2 separate regions of the Homo sapiens genome follow, and region 2 is linked to region 1. A link means that fine-mapping ties the variant in region 1 to the expression of a gene that starts in the linked region. Tissue or cell type: lung. Region 1 holds a variant in brackets; the other region holds the start of a gene. All regions are shown on one strand. Distances are from middle to middle.

Region 1 (8,104 bases):
TTCAGTGTACACCCAGAAGTGGAATTCCTGGATCATATGGTAATTCTTTTTTTATTTTATTTTATTTATTATTATTATTTTTGAGATGGAGTCTCACTCTGTTGCCCAGGCTGGAGTGTAGTGGTGCGATCTTGGCTCACTGCAACCTCCGTTTCCCAGGTTCAAGCGATTCTCCTGCCTCAGCCTTCCGAGTAGCTGGGATTATAGGTGCCTGCCACTGCGCCCAGCTAATTTTTGTATTTTTAGTTAATTAATTAACTAAATAATTAATAAAAAATAATTATTTTATTTTTAGGGTTTCACCGTCTTGGCCAGGCAGGTCTTGAACTCCTGACCTCATGATCTATGCACCTCGGCCTCTCAAAGTGCTGGGATTACAGGTGTGAGCCACCGCGCCTGGCCTCTATTTTGAATTTTTTGAGAAAATGCCATTCTGTTTCCAGTAGTGGCAGCACCACTTTACATTCCTATCAGTACAAGGATTCCAATTCTTCAATATCCTCTCTTTCTTTCTTATAATAGCCATTCTAGTGGGTATGAAGTGGCATCTCGTGGTTTTGATCTGAATTTCTCTAATTAGTGATGTGCTGAAGTGCATGGCACCATCATAGCTCACTGCAGCCTCAAAATCTTGGCCTCAAGTGATCCTCCTGCCTAGTCTCCTGAGTAGCTGGAAGTATAGCTATGTGCCACTACACCGAGCTAATTTTTTTAATTTTCAAATTGTTTATAGAGATGGGGTTTCACCATGTTGTTCAGGCTGGTCTTGAACTCCTGGCTGCAAGTGATCCTCCCACCTTGGCCTCTCAAAGTGTTAGGATTACAGGCATGAGCCACCATGCCTGGCCAGCCATTCTTCTCTAGAGACATATCTATTCAAGTTCTTTGTTCATTTTTGTATTGTGTTGTTTGTTTTTGTTGTTGTTTTTAAGTTTTAGGAGTTCTCTATATGTTCTGGATATTAATTCCTTATCAGATATCATCACGGATTTTTTTTTTACATGATTTTGAAACTTTTCTTCCTTGTAAAAGTTTGAGATATAAAGAATTCCCAGGCTGGGCATGGTGGCTCATGACTGTAATCCCAACATTTTGGAAGGCCGAGATGGGAGGATTGCTTGAGCCCAGGAGTTCAAGACCAGCCTGGGCAACATAGTGAGATCTCATCTCTACAAAAAATTTTAAAATTAGCCAGTCATGGTGGTGTGCACCTGTAGTCCCAGCTACTCAGGAGGCTGAGATGGGAGGATCGCTTGAGCCCAGGAAGTCAAAGCTGCAGTGAGCCATGATCATGCCATTGCACTGCAGCCTGGGTGACAGAGCAAGACCCTGTCTCAAACAACAACAAAAGCAAAAACAACAACAACAACGACAAAATAATTCCCAAACTGGGCTCTTACTGGAATGACTTATGGTCCAAATGTATAACTGAATTGTGTAACTAAGAATTAAATAGCCATCCTAAAGTTTATTTAGCTTAATATTACAAATGCAAGTACACCAAATAATTTTTATAAGGATTAGATGTCATAAAGTCTAATGTCTGTCATCATACTTAACAGTCTCATTTAAATCTTTATATTGTGTTGCATCATAGGTGATACATTGCTCTTTTTTTTCTTTTCTTTTTTTTTTTTTTTGTGAGACAGGGTCTTTCTCTGTCATCCAGGCTGGAGTGCAGTAGCGCAACCTTGGCTCACTGCAGCCTTGACTTCCTGGGCTCAAGAAAACCTCCCACCTCAGTCTCCTGAGTAGCTGGTACTAGAGGTGCTATTGTTCTTCTTAAAGTTATCTAGTTAACACATTATCTTAACCATCAATCTACTTCCCTATTTATCTGTTGAGAAGCTCTTAATAACTGTTTTGGTACATAAAGTAAATACCTTTCACAATCATCACTAATTATTGGCACATTTTGCTCCAGCAATAATAATGGTGCATTTATACTTCAATGGACTGATAGAACTTCAAAACCTAAAGCACATAATATTTTCTCACTCCTCGTTACATCTCACATGCTCAACTATAATTCAAAGTGAATATGCAGCCTTACCACCGAATTGGAATGGCCTGCCTTGCTGGAGTAACTCCAGATGATATGCAGGCTCCATATCATGATCATTTCTGTGGCCACCTGGTCCCTGATGGACTTCAAGGCAGTGAAGCTGTTACCAGTGGAGGGTGTCCAGGTTCTTGGCATTTTGAACAAAGAGTTGGACAAAACCCACAAACAAAGCAAGGAAAGAATGAAGCAACAAAAGCAGAGATTTATTGAAAATGAAAGCACACTCCATAGGGTGGGAGCGCCCCGAGCATAGGGACTCAAGAGCCCAGTTGCAGAATCTTCTGGGGTCCGAATACCCCCTAGAGGTTTCCCATTGGCCACATGGTGTTCACCCCATGCAAATAAAGTAGTGGCCCGAAATCAATCTGATTGGTTGCAGAAAGCAACTCATCAGAGACTGAAGTGAAGTTACAAAGTTACACTCCTATGCAAATATCTGATCGGTTGCAGGAAGCAACCAATCAGAGGTACTTTCAGTTTTCCAGCAGAAACGGGTGGGTGGTTTTCAAAGGGAGTCGCCCCTGGTCCTTTTGCTACTTAGGTATGGAAAGTTGGGGTTTTCCTTTCAATTTGGTTCTAGGAAGTCAGCGTGAATCAGCCTTAGGTTTCCTGCCTCCAGACCCTAGTCTCCTGCCTCAAAGTGGCCAGTCGGCTCTCGGGCCTTCCCAAGGCAGAAGGTGGAGCTGAAAAGCAGACTTCCCTGAATGCTGAGGCTAAGTTGAAAAGTGGTGTAGGCTCTGTGCAGCCCACCTGAAGAACAGAGGAAGGGAGCACCAGAAAGCTGCTTGGGAGCTGGGTCTCAGGATGCCGGGCAGAGGCGTTTGAGCTTTACCCCTTGGGTGGTAGAGCATGGACCACTGCAGGCTCTCCAGGTCGTGAGTGGGCGTGGGTGGACCCGTGGGCCTATTTGATTTAGTTTCTCTCTCCCACACCATGGGAGCCATCTTCTCCCTCTTGCGACTCCCTGTCTTATAAACCAGAGAAGATGACTAGTGCTTATGAAAAGCACTTTTGTGCT[G/A]ACAGGTGCCCTAAGGCCACCATCATCATCCGTGAGGATTTCTCTTTTTGTCAGAGTGCTGCAGCAGCTGCAGCCTCATTCAGGGTCTGGCCTGTGTCCCCAGATTGCAGAGGAGAAAAGAGCCAACATAGGCCAGGCACAGCGGCTCACGCCCGTAACCTCAGCACTTTGGGAGGCTGAGGCAGGCAGATCCCTTGAGTCCAGGAGTTTGAGACCAGCCTGGGCAACATAGTGAGACCCCGTCTCTAAAAAAAAAAAAAAAAAAAAGCCAGGATAGGTGGCATGTGCCTGTAGTCTCAGCTACTTGGGAGGCTGAGGTGGGAGGATTGCTTGAGCCTGGGAGGTCGAGGCTACAGTGAGCCATAATTGCATCACGGCACTCCAGCCTGGGAGACTGCTGAAACGCCCCAAAAACAAACAAAAGAACTACCACAGACCCAACAGTACAAAATCCAAAAGACCTGAAAAAGGTATACCATTCAAAATAGGTATCCCTCCCATTCTGTCCTCAGGGTTCCTGTTTTCTTTTTCCCTGAAGGCAACCGGGCTTCCAGCTTCTTATGTGTCCTTGCAAAGATTTTTTTTTAGAGATTGTCCGTACAGTACCTCTACAAGCAAATAAGGATAAATAAGGCCTTGGTTTCTTTCTTTCTTTACATAAACAATAGTGTACCATACACATTTCTCTGTGCTTTCTTTCCACAATATATTTTGGAGCTTGTCCTACATTTGGTCATAAAGCATTTCCTTTTTCTTCCTTGCAGCTGCATGGTATTCCGTTACGTGGCTGTCCCATCGTTTTTTAACCAATCTCTTAATGATGGACAATTGAGTGGTTTCTGCTCTTTTTGTTATCAACAATGTTGCAGTAAATAACTGTGGATTTGTTATTCCACACGTGAGTATATCTCCAGGATGCATTCTTCGTGTAGAACTGTAGGGTCAAAGGGCCTGCACAGCTATAATCTTGATTAATATTACCAAAATTTCCCCCACTAGGATTGTACCCATTTACATTTCCACCGATGATTCTTGAGAGTGCCATTTCCCACTTTACTCACATCATGTGCTGTCAAGCTTTTGAATGGGTGCCAATCTGATAAGATGAAACTGGTACCTCAGTGTACTTTTAATCCTGTATGTTTCTTATTAAGAGTGACACTGAGGCCGGGCATGGTGGCTCACGCCTGTAATCGTAACACTTTGGAAGGCCACGGCAGGCAGATTTCTTGAGCTCAGGAGTTTGAGATCAGCCTGGGCAACATGGTGAAACCCTATCTCTGCAAAACACACAAAAATTAGCCGGGCATGGGGGCACTCACTTTTAGTCCCAGCAACTCAGGAGGCTGAGGCGGGAGGATCACCTGAGCCTCTCAAGAAGTAGAGGCTGCAGTGAGCTGTGATGGCACCACAGCACTTCAGCTTGGGCAACAGATCAAGACCCTGCCGAAAGAGAGAGAAAGAAAGGAAGGGGAGGGGAGGGGAGGGGAGGGGAGGAAGAAAGAAAGAAAGAAAGAGAGAGAAAGAGTGACATTGGTTGAGCAATTTTCTATTGTTTAAAAATCACTGTATTTCTTTTTTTGTGAACCGTCTGTCTGTTCATGTCCTCCTTGCCCCCTTTCTATTGGGTTGTTAGCATTTTCTCACTGATTTGCTTGTATATAAGTGGTGAAAAGTTTTTTTTTTTTCTTTCAGTTTGGCATTTATCTTTTGACTGCTTATGGTGGCTTTACAGAAAGACTTTATTTTTGGCCAGGCACAGTTGCTCATGCCTGTAATCCCAGCACTTTGGGAGGCCGAGGCAGGCAGATCACCTGAGGTCAGGAGTTTGAGAACAGCCTGGCCAACATGGTGAAACCCCGTCTCTACTAAAAATACAAAAATTAGCTGGGCGTGGTGGCATATGCCTGTAATCTCAGCTACTTGGGGGGCTGAGGCAGGAGAATGGCTTGAACCCAAGAGGCAGAGGTTGCAGTGAGCCAAGACACACCATTGCACTCCAGCTTGGGCGACAAGAGGGAGACTCCACCTCAAAAAAGAGAAGAAAAAAAGAAAAAAAAAAGCTCATAGAATAAGGGTACAAAGAAAATATTTTGTGCAGCTCTATATGTTGGTGTTTTATGCTAAGTATTATTATAAAAAAGTCCAAATGTTTTTAAAAATTGAAAAGTTTGTAAAATAAAAAAAGTACAGTAAGCTAAGGTTATGTTATTCTTGAGGAAAGAACAAATTTTTCATAAACGTGGTGTAGCCTAAATGTACAGTGTTTACAAAGTCTACAGCAGTGGTCGGTAATGTCCCAGGCCTTACCGTTCACTCACCAACCACTCACTGACTCACCCAGAGCAACCTCCAGTCCTGCAAGCTCCATTCATGGTAAGCGCCTTACACAGGTGTACCATATTTTTATTTTTCCTACCATATTTTGAACGATATTTTTCTATGTTTAGATACACCATTGTGTTGCGATTGCCTACAGTATTCAGTACAGAAACATGCTGCACAGGCTTGTGGCCTAGGAGCAACAGGCTAACCCATATAGCCCAGGTGTGCAGTAGGCTATGCCATGTAGGCTAACACGTATAGCCCAGGTGTGCAGTAGGCTATGCCATTGTAGGAACCCTACAATGTTCACACAATGAAACTGCCTTACAATGCAGTGTATTAGCTGGGAATTCCAGTATGATATAGAAAGGACTGGTGAGAGAGAACATCCTTGACTTGTTCATGATTTTACGGTAAAACATCTAGTTTTACACCATTAAGTCTAACGTTAAATGTAGGGGTTTTTTGTAGCTGTTCCTCATCAGGTTGAGGGAGTTCTTCTCTATTCCTAGTTTGCTGAAGATTTTGGGTTGTATTTTTATCATGAATGGGTATTGAATTTTGTCAGATGCTTTTTCTCCATTTATTGATGTGATCATATGATTTTTCTTTTTGAGCCTGTTGATGTGATGAATTATGTAAATTGATTTAAGAATGTGAGTCAGATTTGCATACTTGAAATAAATCTCAGTGTTGGACAAATCTGACATTATTGAAAGATTTGTTACCATTTCATTGAGGATTTTTGCATCTTCAATTCTTTTAAACATGTTTATGTTCCATATATGGCACAGAATGTGGTCTATTGTGGTAAATATTTCTGGTAAGCATGAGAAGAATGTGTATTCTACTGTTGTTGGATGAATTTGTTTATAAATGTCTATTATGTCCTGTTGATTGATGCTGCTGTTCAGTTCAGCTATATCCTTATTGGATATGTCAGCTACTGATCTCTTATGTTGAGGTATCCAACTATAAGAATGGATATTTTAATTTGCCTTGCAATTCTACTAGTTTTTGCCTTACATATTTTGACATTGTTAGGTACATATATGTTAAGAATTATTCTATTTTCTTGGGGAATTGATCCCTTTATCACTATGTAATGTTCCTCTTTCTCCCTTATAATTTTCCTTGTTCTGAAGTCTGCTTTATCTGCAATTAATACAGTTGCCCCACCTTTCTTTGATTAGAGTTTGTATGGTACGATGCATCCCATTACTTCTTTCATTTATTTACTTTTTAAAAGTTAGACATTCTTTTTGTGGTGAAATATAAATAACGTAAAAATTACCATCTTAACTATTTTTAAGTGTATAGTTTAGTGGCAGTCATATTGTTGTGCATCCATCACCACCACCCACGATGAGTTCATCTGGGAGACCGATCCATACTAGAGTGCCTCAGAACTCTTTCACCTGGGAAAACTGAAATTCTATAGCCATGAAACAAAAACTAATTATACTTTTCATCTCTGTGAATTTGACTACTCTAGGACATTGGAGAAGTGAAATCATACAGTATTTGTCTTTGTGTGACTGGTGTGATAACAAAACTATCACAAAAGGCTCTGTAAAAACCAAAACCTTGCACAAAAGCCATTGTAACCTTACACAAAAAAATACTTCCGCAAGGAAATCTGCCCAGCAAAGCTAAATGTTCAACCTTGGACAGGCATCACCTTTGTTACTGACTCTTGTAGCCAAGGATAATCATTTCAAAACAATCATATTGAGAGGTGACAGCGTGCTGGCAGCCCTCGCTCGCTCTCGGCGCCTCCTTGGCCTCTGCGCCCACTCTGGCCGCGCTTGAGGAGCCCTTCGGCCTCCCGCTGCACTGTGTGGGAGCCCCTCTTTGGGCTGGCTGAGGCCAGAGCCGGCTCCCTCTGCTTGCGGGGAGGTGTGGAGGGAGAGGCGCGGAAGGAGAGACGCGGGTGGGAACCGGGGCTGCACGGGGTGCTGGCGGACCAGCGCGAGTTCCGGGTGGGTGTGGGCTTGGCAGCCCTGCAGTAGGAGCGGCCGGCCGCCACCACCAGTCCTGGGCAGTGACGAGCTTAGCACCTGGGCCAGTAGCCACAGAGAGTGCGCTGGGTCCCCCAGCAGTGCCGGCCCGCCCACGTTGCACTCGAATTCTCGCGGGTCCTCAGCTGCCTCCCCGCAGGGCAGGACTCAGGACCTGCAGCCTGCCATGCCCGAGCCTCCCCACCTCCGTGGGCTCCTGCTCCGCCCGAGCCTCCGTGGCTCTGGGTCCCATCACCGCCCAAGGTGCTGAGGAGTGCGGGTGCACGGTGGGACTGGCGGGCAACTCCGCCTGTGGCCTTGATGCAGGATCCACTAGGTGAAGCCAGCTGGGCTCCTGGGTTTAGTGGGGACTTGGAGAACCTTTATGTCTAGCTAAGGGATTGTAAATACACCAATCAGCACTCTGTATCTAGCTCAAGGTTTGTAAACACACCAATCAGCACCCTGTGTCTAGCTCAGGGTTTGTAAATGCACCAATCAGCACTCTGTATCTAGCTAATCTAGTGGGGACATTTATGTCCAGCTAAGGGATTGTAAATACACCAATCAGCACTCTGTGTCTAGCTCAAGGTTTGTAAACATACCAATCAGCACCCTGTGTCTAGCTCAAGGTTTGTAAATGCACCAAGCAGTGCTCTATGTCTAGCTAATCTAGTGGGGACTTGGAGAATTTTT
Region 2 (8,091 bases), 550 kb after region 1:
GTCTGAAACTTGAAAAATTACAAAGAGCTGTATCAGCACATCATTTCAAAATACAGAAGTAAATACAAAAGTAAGAGCCAAAAAGTTAATCCATTAGGGAAACTGGACATGGGCTGGGAAGATGGCAGAAAGTACTACTTGTGTTTTTAAAGGTCTTATTGACTGATACTTTAAGCTATATATATATATATGTTTTACTTTGGTGAAATTAATAACCGAATTAATAAAATGTTTCAATATAATTTACTGTGGATAAATCAGATTAAAAGAGAAAAATGATACAATTCTCAAAGATTCTTTAGTAGGCATTTTGATAAATATCCTATACACAGGCCTGATTAAAATAAATAACTTTTAGTAAACCAGAGCCAGCAGGAAATGTCCTTAACTTGAAAAAAGGTGTCTATAAGAAAGCCTCAATTTAAACATTATAAGTATTCCCCTTGAAATCAGGAATAAAACTAAAATGTTCATTTTTACTGTTACTATTCAGTATTACACTGGCAGTCCTGGCTAATGCGCTAAGGCAAAAGAGAAAGAAAAAAGAAAGAAAAAGAAAAGTATACAGGTATAAATTCTGAAAAAGAGGAGACAAAGCTGCTACTATCTTTGAAGATGTAATTATTTCTCCAGAAAAACACAAGACAATATTAAGAGGGAGAAGACCACTTAGTAAGACTCCTATGCACAAGATCAGCTAACTAAAATGAATAGATTTCCCTTATGCCAGCAAGAAATAACTAGAAAATGTAAAAGGAAAATGAATTCCTGTTTACAAATACAATTTTAAAATGCCTAGAACTAAAGCGACCCAACAAGGTCCCAAGTTCAAACAATCATGAATAAATGGAGAGATTTACTATGTTTCTCACTGGGGCCATTCAGGATTTTTTTAAAACATAAATTCTTCCTAAATTTATCTGTTCATTTAGTGTCTCTCAATTCAATCCCAGTAAGGTAGGTTACAGAACACTACCTATAAAATCATAGTAACTAAAACATTTCAGTATTGAAACAAGAATGAAAATAGAACCATGGATCAGATCATGGGTCACCAACGCAAATTCATATGTAAAATTTAGCACACTAGTTCCCTTCTATCCACAGGGGATGCTTCCAAGAACCCCAGTGGATGCTTGAAACCGCAGATAGTACCAAACTCTGCATATACTATGTTTTCCCCAATCTGTACATAAATTAGGCACAATAAAAGATGAATAACAATATCTAATAATAAAGTAGATCAACTATAACAATGTAGTGTAATAAAAATTATGTAAATGTGGTCTCTTTTTGTCTCTCAAAACATCATACTGTAGATATTAACAACCTCAGCATATTATTTTTTTCTTTCAGGAAATTTCACATTTTCACCTAAAGGAAGCCCTTGACGGCTTCTCTTTGGCATATCTGAATTGCCAGCATCAACCTTCTTGTGCTTTGGGGCCATTATTGACTAAAATAAGGGTTCCTTGAACACAAGCTCTGTTATACCAGGACAGTCGATCTGATCACCAGGACAGCTACTCAGCGACTCATGGGCTGGTAGTGTCTACACTGTGGATACCCTGGATAAAGGGATGGTTCACATCCTGGGCAGGATGGAGAGGGACAGCATGAGATTTCATCACACTCCTCAGAACGCCAAGTATCTTAAAACTCATGAATTGTTTTCTGGAATTTTGCATTTAATGTTTTTGGACCAAGTTTTACTGCAAGTAACTGAAATCTCAGAAAGTAAAACTGTTGATAAGGGAGGACTACTTTAGTTAATAATGGCATAAAAATATCAAATATCTATGAAGGAATCTAGCAGAAGGGCAAAACCTTCAGAGAGAAAAATACAAATTTTAATAGGAGACATTTTTAAAGTAATAATATACATAAACCATATTCATGAGATGGAAGTCTCGTGAATGTAAAGATGTCCATTCTCTTCAAATTGATTTATAGATCCAGTGCAGTTCCACACAAAATCTCGAGATTTTGACAGGCAAATTTGGGAGTCTAAGACATTCTGGAGGAAGAGGAAGAGATTTGCTCCCTCAGATGTCAAGAGTTCCTGGGAAGCTGCCATCACTATGGCAGCGTGGTACTGGCATAAGGAGGGGCTGTCACCGGCCAAGGGGAGAGAAGAGAGAACACAGAAGCACACCCTGCCTCTATACTCCCAAAAAGGGTAGCACTGCGAATCAGCAGGGAAAAGGATAATTTAATCAATCAACGGTGAACTCAGAAAAATTGATAAGAATCAAAACAAAGACTTCAAACTGTAGCTCAGACAAAAAACAATTTGATCTCAGATAAAACAGGGAATGTTAAAAAAAAAAAGAAAAAAAGTTCATCCAGATTATGACTAAGCAAACGGGAAGTTTGGGGTGACCTGCCCTGGCCAAGCCTGGCTAGAGGAGCTGTAAAGCCACCACAGGCACGTGGAACACAAGATCAGACAGAATCAGTCTGGAAAAATAACTAAGAGACAACAAGGAGAATATCCCAAAGTTCTTAACAGCACAGGCAAACCTAAATAAAGCAAGACTGTGAAGACTGAATGACAAGAGGTTATGGAGCTTGCAGGCGTACAGAAACCAATTAAGATCCCTCCTCAAAAATAAACACTATCAATTTTTAAAAAATTAGAAATGACAAGAAACAAGAAACCTACTAGAAGGTAAATAATTGTCATGGAGGAAAAGTTTGAGACAACTATTATGAACACAAAGTGAAAGACTGAAAAGATGAAAACGGGGCAAATAAAAGCTGTGAAGGCTAAAGTGGCTCCAATGTAAGAATATTTTTGTTTAAAAATTTAAAAAATTTTCAGAGATATTAGAGGAGGAACTCTTCCTGGAATAGCGGTAGCAGCGAATCTGCCACCTTAACACAGAAATAATTGTAAAAACTAAGAGTGCTCACAGAGGGTGTCAGCATCACCTCGTTTATAACAAGGGTGCATCTATCTTAAAAAAATCTGTATCACAAGAGGCCTATATGTTAAGTTTTAAGCTTTAATAAGATAAAAGTCACCATAGACAAAGGTAATGGACAAGAAAAGTATATTTATACTTACAGAATATTTAGTGAATTCTCCCATATCACGAAAAAAAGGACAAACACCTCAACGGAATCATATTGGCAAAAAACAAACAAGCAATTTATAGAAGAGGGAATTTAAATGGCCAAGAAACATGAAAAGCTGATCAATTTTCCCATCGTAAGGAAAATACAAATTAAAACAAGACATAACTCTTCATTCATCACCTTTGCAAATCGTGGCTGTGTGCAGGAAGATGGTTCATCTCATTTGCTACTGGTGAAATACATTCATTCAGCCTCCTAGAAAGACAATTTGGCAGGACCAAGTAAATAACTGGACCCTTTGCCTCAATAATTACATTTTTAAGGTTTAGAGACAAGATAAATATTTGTTTAGATGTAAAAACCCAAAAAGAAATATATAATCATTGTTATGATAGCTTATTGGTAAATGTGAACAATTTAAAAACAATCTAAATGTCCTTCAATTGGAGAATAAATAATTATCATATATCAATTCTATGGAATAGCATGTATAAAAAGAATGAGGCAGATCTATATGTATTAAGGTTAAAAGATCTCTAAGTTTTCCACTATTAAAATAAGTAAAAATGCAAAATGCAGACTAGCACATGTAATATAATTTATTATAAATCAAGAACATAAATTACGTATTTACAAAAAATGCATTAGATATATAAATGCATAGAAAAATATAAGAAAAGCTGTGCCCAAGACTCTTCACAGGACTGGGAAGAGAAGCTACAAGAATGGCTGAGTGGCAAAGATGACTTTTTCCTTAATATACTTCTCCACTGTTTTAAATTTTATGAACAATAATGTACAGTGTATTTCTTTTGTATTAAAAAATTTAAAAGATTAAGTAATGTTATTTCTCAACTCACTACTAGAGAAAAGTTAGGATTTCCTTCTCTTTTCTGGTCAGAGGTATCCCCCATCTTGGGACAGGAAATTGAGGTAAAAATGAAAATATTTAGCCGTTTGTCACCCTGGGCCTTTTTCTTCCCTTTCCTTCTTTTGATCAAGGTTGATGGAATAAGAACTCAGACCCTGAGCCAGTCATGGGAACAGCCGGCAGAGGCCCCTTGCCAGGACAGGTGAGACCACAGCGTCTGATGTTTAAAAGTAAGCCAGGTGTTTACCCTGGAGTGTTTATTTTCTAAAGCACCTTTTTTGACATGACATATTTGAAGGTAGAGGAAGGCTGAGGGGTGAAAGGGTTCACAGATCATGAGGAAATAGTTAATCCCAGCCACCAACAACTGCTATGTTTAGAGTGTCCCGGTCAGCTGAGCAGTAAATCCAAAACAAGAAAGTCACGTGTGTTATGGCAAGTTGAACTCACACCAACAGCTGTCCTGCTCCTGTTTAAAAAATCTGATTTCCTCATTACTTGTCTTTCATTTCATTATATAACATCGCATACCTATGTTCTTGCAAAGAAGGATTAAAGTGAAGCCTTAGGCACAAACTGAACTAAAGGCATGAAAGCTGCAATATAGCCAGAGATAAAGGTTAAAGGAAGGGAGATAAAGACTCACCTGGTGCTCAGGTCGCCGCCCCCACCTGCCATCTTCCCACCCTAGGCCCTGCGTGGGCCTCAGAGCCTGGCCTCTGAGCCCCTCAGTCGGCCCAGCCTGCGTGCAGTGTGGCTGCCCAGGCCCCAAGCAGGAAGTCGGCCGACAGACTGACTCAGAAAGGGCTCCGCCCAAATGGGGAAAAGAGAAGTGAAAGTATTTAACCTCCTTCTGGGCTACGGACACTGTGTTTCTCCTCCTTTTTCACTCCAAGGGATTCTCAGCTTTTCTGAAATGTGGCAGAGGGTTGGAGGAGAGGCCTGACAAGCAGCAAGACCTGCAGGACCAGGGAAGGAGGGCCCAGGGGACGAGCAGGGCCAGCTCCCGGGTGTCCACTTGTTTGTGCAATACACAGCCAAAAAAAATGTCCTTGAAACAAAATTGTCCTTAGCTGCTCTGCCCTCTAAGAGGGGGCATAGTTTACATGGGAGTTGGGGGGGAAACTCCATGTTTGCCCCTTCCCCTTGCTGACATGGCTTGGGGTGGGAGTTGGAGGGTTGGAGGGAAAGCCAGAAACCTCAAATCTTCTCTCAGGCCCATGGGAGAGCATGGACTGGACTAAGGTAGGTCCTGACATTGGGACCCAGGGCTGGAGAGAACCAAAATGCTCAGCATTATAACCTGGGGAGAGTGTGCTTAGCCTTCCTGGAAATCAGCCAGAAGTAAGAGAGAACTCTCCACACCCCTGGGACCAGAGGCTGGAGCCAGCATGGTAAGAAAGGCAAACATTTTAAGGGGCAAGGGTTTAAGGAATCTTGACTATGGGGCCGCCTTGGAACAGCCAGGGGTGAAGAGACACCTAAGCTTCGGAGAAGTCACTGGAATCTTGAGAGAACAAAAGCTTCTCATTGGAGGAGGATGGAGGTTGGAACCCAGATGATCTAGACATGGAAGGGCAGGGTGGCTCCCGCGGGAGGTTCTATCTCTGCCCAGATTTTCCATTTAGATTCTGATTCATCATTCCTCAGAGAACAAGAAGCGACCGAGAAGACTCGCTTTACATCAGTATAAAGTCATAGGTAAAGAAACAGAAGCAAAGGGCGCATGAGAATGGGGCCACAGGACACAACCAGGGACCAGAACTCCAGGCCGGACCATGGGGCAGAGACAGGGAGGCAGCTGGGAGCCTGGGGGCGCTGGAATCCAGGGCCCAAGGTGAGCAGAGGGTGGAAGCTGGTGAGGATTCAGGGGCCAGAGGGGATGGCACTTCAGAACGGTGTTTTCCAAATGGCATTCTACTGAATCCAACTTCTTCCAGCTGTGAATAAGGATGCTTGTCCAGGTACATTTGAAAATGTGGGGGAAGGGGCTTTCTACCCTCACTCTACTTCTGCTCTTCTTTTCCCCATGAGTGAATGACCAGGCACCAGGACATTGGTGAGGACAGCTTTGCCGGTGGGCGAAGGTCACTGTTTCTATCAGGCACTGCACACCTGTAGGTCTCTCTCTCTTTCTCTCACCTGTAGGTCTCTCTCTCTTTCTCTCATTCTTCCTACCCCCCATGACTCCCCGACTTTATGGGGCTGAAGGGCTGGTAAGCTGAGCCTCTTTTGGGCACAGCTGTCCTTTGATCCCAGTCTCCATGAGGCACATTGGTCCCAAGAAGTCCTGGCATGGACCACACAGTATGCTTTGGTGTGGTTCACGTTCTCCCCTCTCGCTGCCTCTGGGCAGCAGGCAGGCTCAGGCCATTGAGTGGCACTGACATAAACGTGCCAGCTTTTCCCTGGATGTGCTTAGGGGCTACTAAGAGCAGCACCTGGAATTCCAGACCAATGAGCCACAGGCTGGCAGGGAATTCCTTACGGGTTGAACTTCACGGGCAGACATGCCCATGCTGGGGCACCTCCTGGCAGCAGGGAAGGAGATGTTCTCATCAGATGAGGTTGGAGACAGATGAGCATGCACCATGCTCCGCTGGTATATGGAGAATCTGTAGGCCTCTGTGAAGAAAGCAAAGTTTCTCTGATCCAGAAAACAATGTCAGACACACTGGGGTTGGGAAAGGGACGGGACCACATTAAGAAGACATGTGAGCTAAAAATCCTGCTGGACTGTTTAGAAGGAAATAATGGAACTCCTGGGGCATTTTCCATGGCTGCAAGGAGCACAGGCAATAGGGAATATTTCTGTTGTCAAGAAGTAGTTCCAGTTACTGGAGCCTGGAAAACTCAAAAGCAGGGGAGGCAGTGATTGAGGAAGGACCACAGGCAGGGCACCCAGCCAGATGATGGGCCTCTTACATTTCACCAAGAGCAGCTTCAGTTCAGACTTCAGTGGTGTGGGTGAGGCAGGAGAATAGGGTCTGGAGGCAGGGAACCTAAGGCCATTTCATGCTAACTTCCTAGAACTAAATTGAAAGGAAAACCCTAACTTTCCATGCCTAAGTAACAAAAGGTCCAGAGGCTACTCCCTTTGCAAACCCCCACCTTTTCTGTGGGGCAATGGGAAATGGAAAGTACCTGTGTATAGTTGTTTTTTGCATAGGAGTGTAACTTTGTAACTTTACTTCAGCCTCTGATGGGTTGCTGTCTGCAACCAATCAGACTGATTGCAGGCCAAGTCTTCCTTTGCATAGAAGTACAACTTTGTAATTTCACTTTAGCCTCTGATTGGTTGCTTTCTGCAACCAATGAGATGTTTGCACAGGAGTGTGACCTTTGTAACTTCACTTCAGCCTCTGGTTGGTTGCTTTCCTCAACCAATCAGACTGATTGCAGGCCGCCACTTCATTTACATGAGGTGAGCACCAAGTGGTCAATGGGAAACCTCCAGGGGGTATTTGGACCAGAGAAGATTCTGTATGCGGGACCGTTGAATACTGCTTGGGCCTGCTCCCACACTGTGGAGTGTACTTCTATTTTCAATAAATCCCTGCTTTCGTTCTTTTGTTGCTTCATTCTTTTCTTGCTTTGCTGTGCGCTTTGTCCAATTCTTTGTTCAAAACGCCAAGAACCTGGACAACTTGCAGTCAAGACCCTCTACTGGTAACATGGTGGGGGGTGATTCTTCAACCTGGGACCCCCATGTGAGAACCAGAGGTCTGTACCTGAGATGAGGTCATTGGCATCATGGACCAGAGAGTTTCAGGGCAGGAGGCAGCTACAGGAACAGTGCCACTGGGGCATGAGAATAGAGAACCTGGCCACCCTCCAAGGGACGTAGAAGTGACGAGTGAAGGGCAGGCGCCTGGGATCTTTAGTGGGAGCACCCAGTCCTGCCGAACTGTCTCCTTCTAGGAGGTGGAACATCAATCAGTCAAGGCCCGGTCCCTTCCGGTCCCCGCCCATCTTCTAGGGGACGCTTCTCTGACTGGGAGTGGGAGTGAGCCTGCTCTTTGCTGGGTGTCCCTGGAGTCATCCTGCCTGCAGAGACCAAGACTCTGTTGGCTCCTCCAAGCTCAAGTGCACAAGGACAGGGGCCTGCATAGCGTGGGGGAGAGTTGGAACAGCCTGAG

The links. PIP is the estimated chance that this variant, and not a neighbour inherited with it, causes the effect.
Region 2: it holds the start of SP100, and the variant in region 1 is fine-mapped to the expression of SP100 in lung (TOPMed, PIP 0.97).

The regions. Positions count from the first base shown.
Region 1 is chr2:230,963,844-230,971,947 of GRCh38, reverse strand. No RefSeq gene overlaps it. Among named protein-coding and RNA genes, the nearest start is that of SPATA3-AS1, 28 kb to the left of the region's middle. The variant G/A (reference allele first, on the strand shown) is at 3,084.
Region 2 is chr2:230,412,836-230,420,926 of GRCh38, reverse strand. SP100 (SP100 nuclear antigen) reads right to left here and starts at 4,726. Exons shown (of 29, transcript NM_001080391.2): 1 at 4,599-4,726; 2 at 3,262-3,336. The coding sequence starts at 4,630. RefSeq lists an enhancer at 4,560-5,079.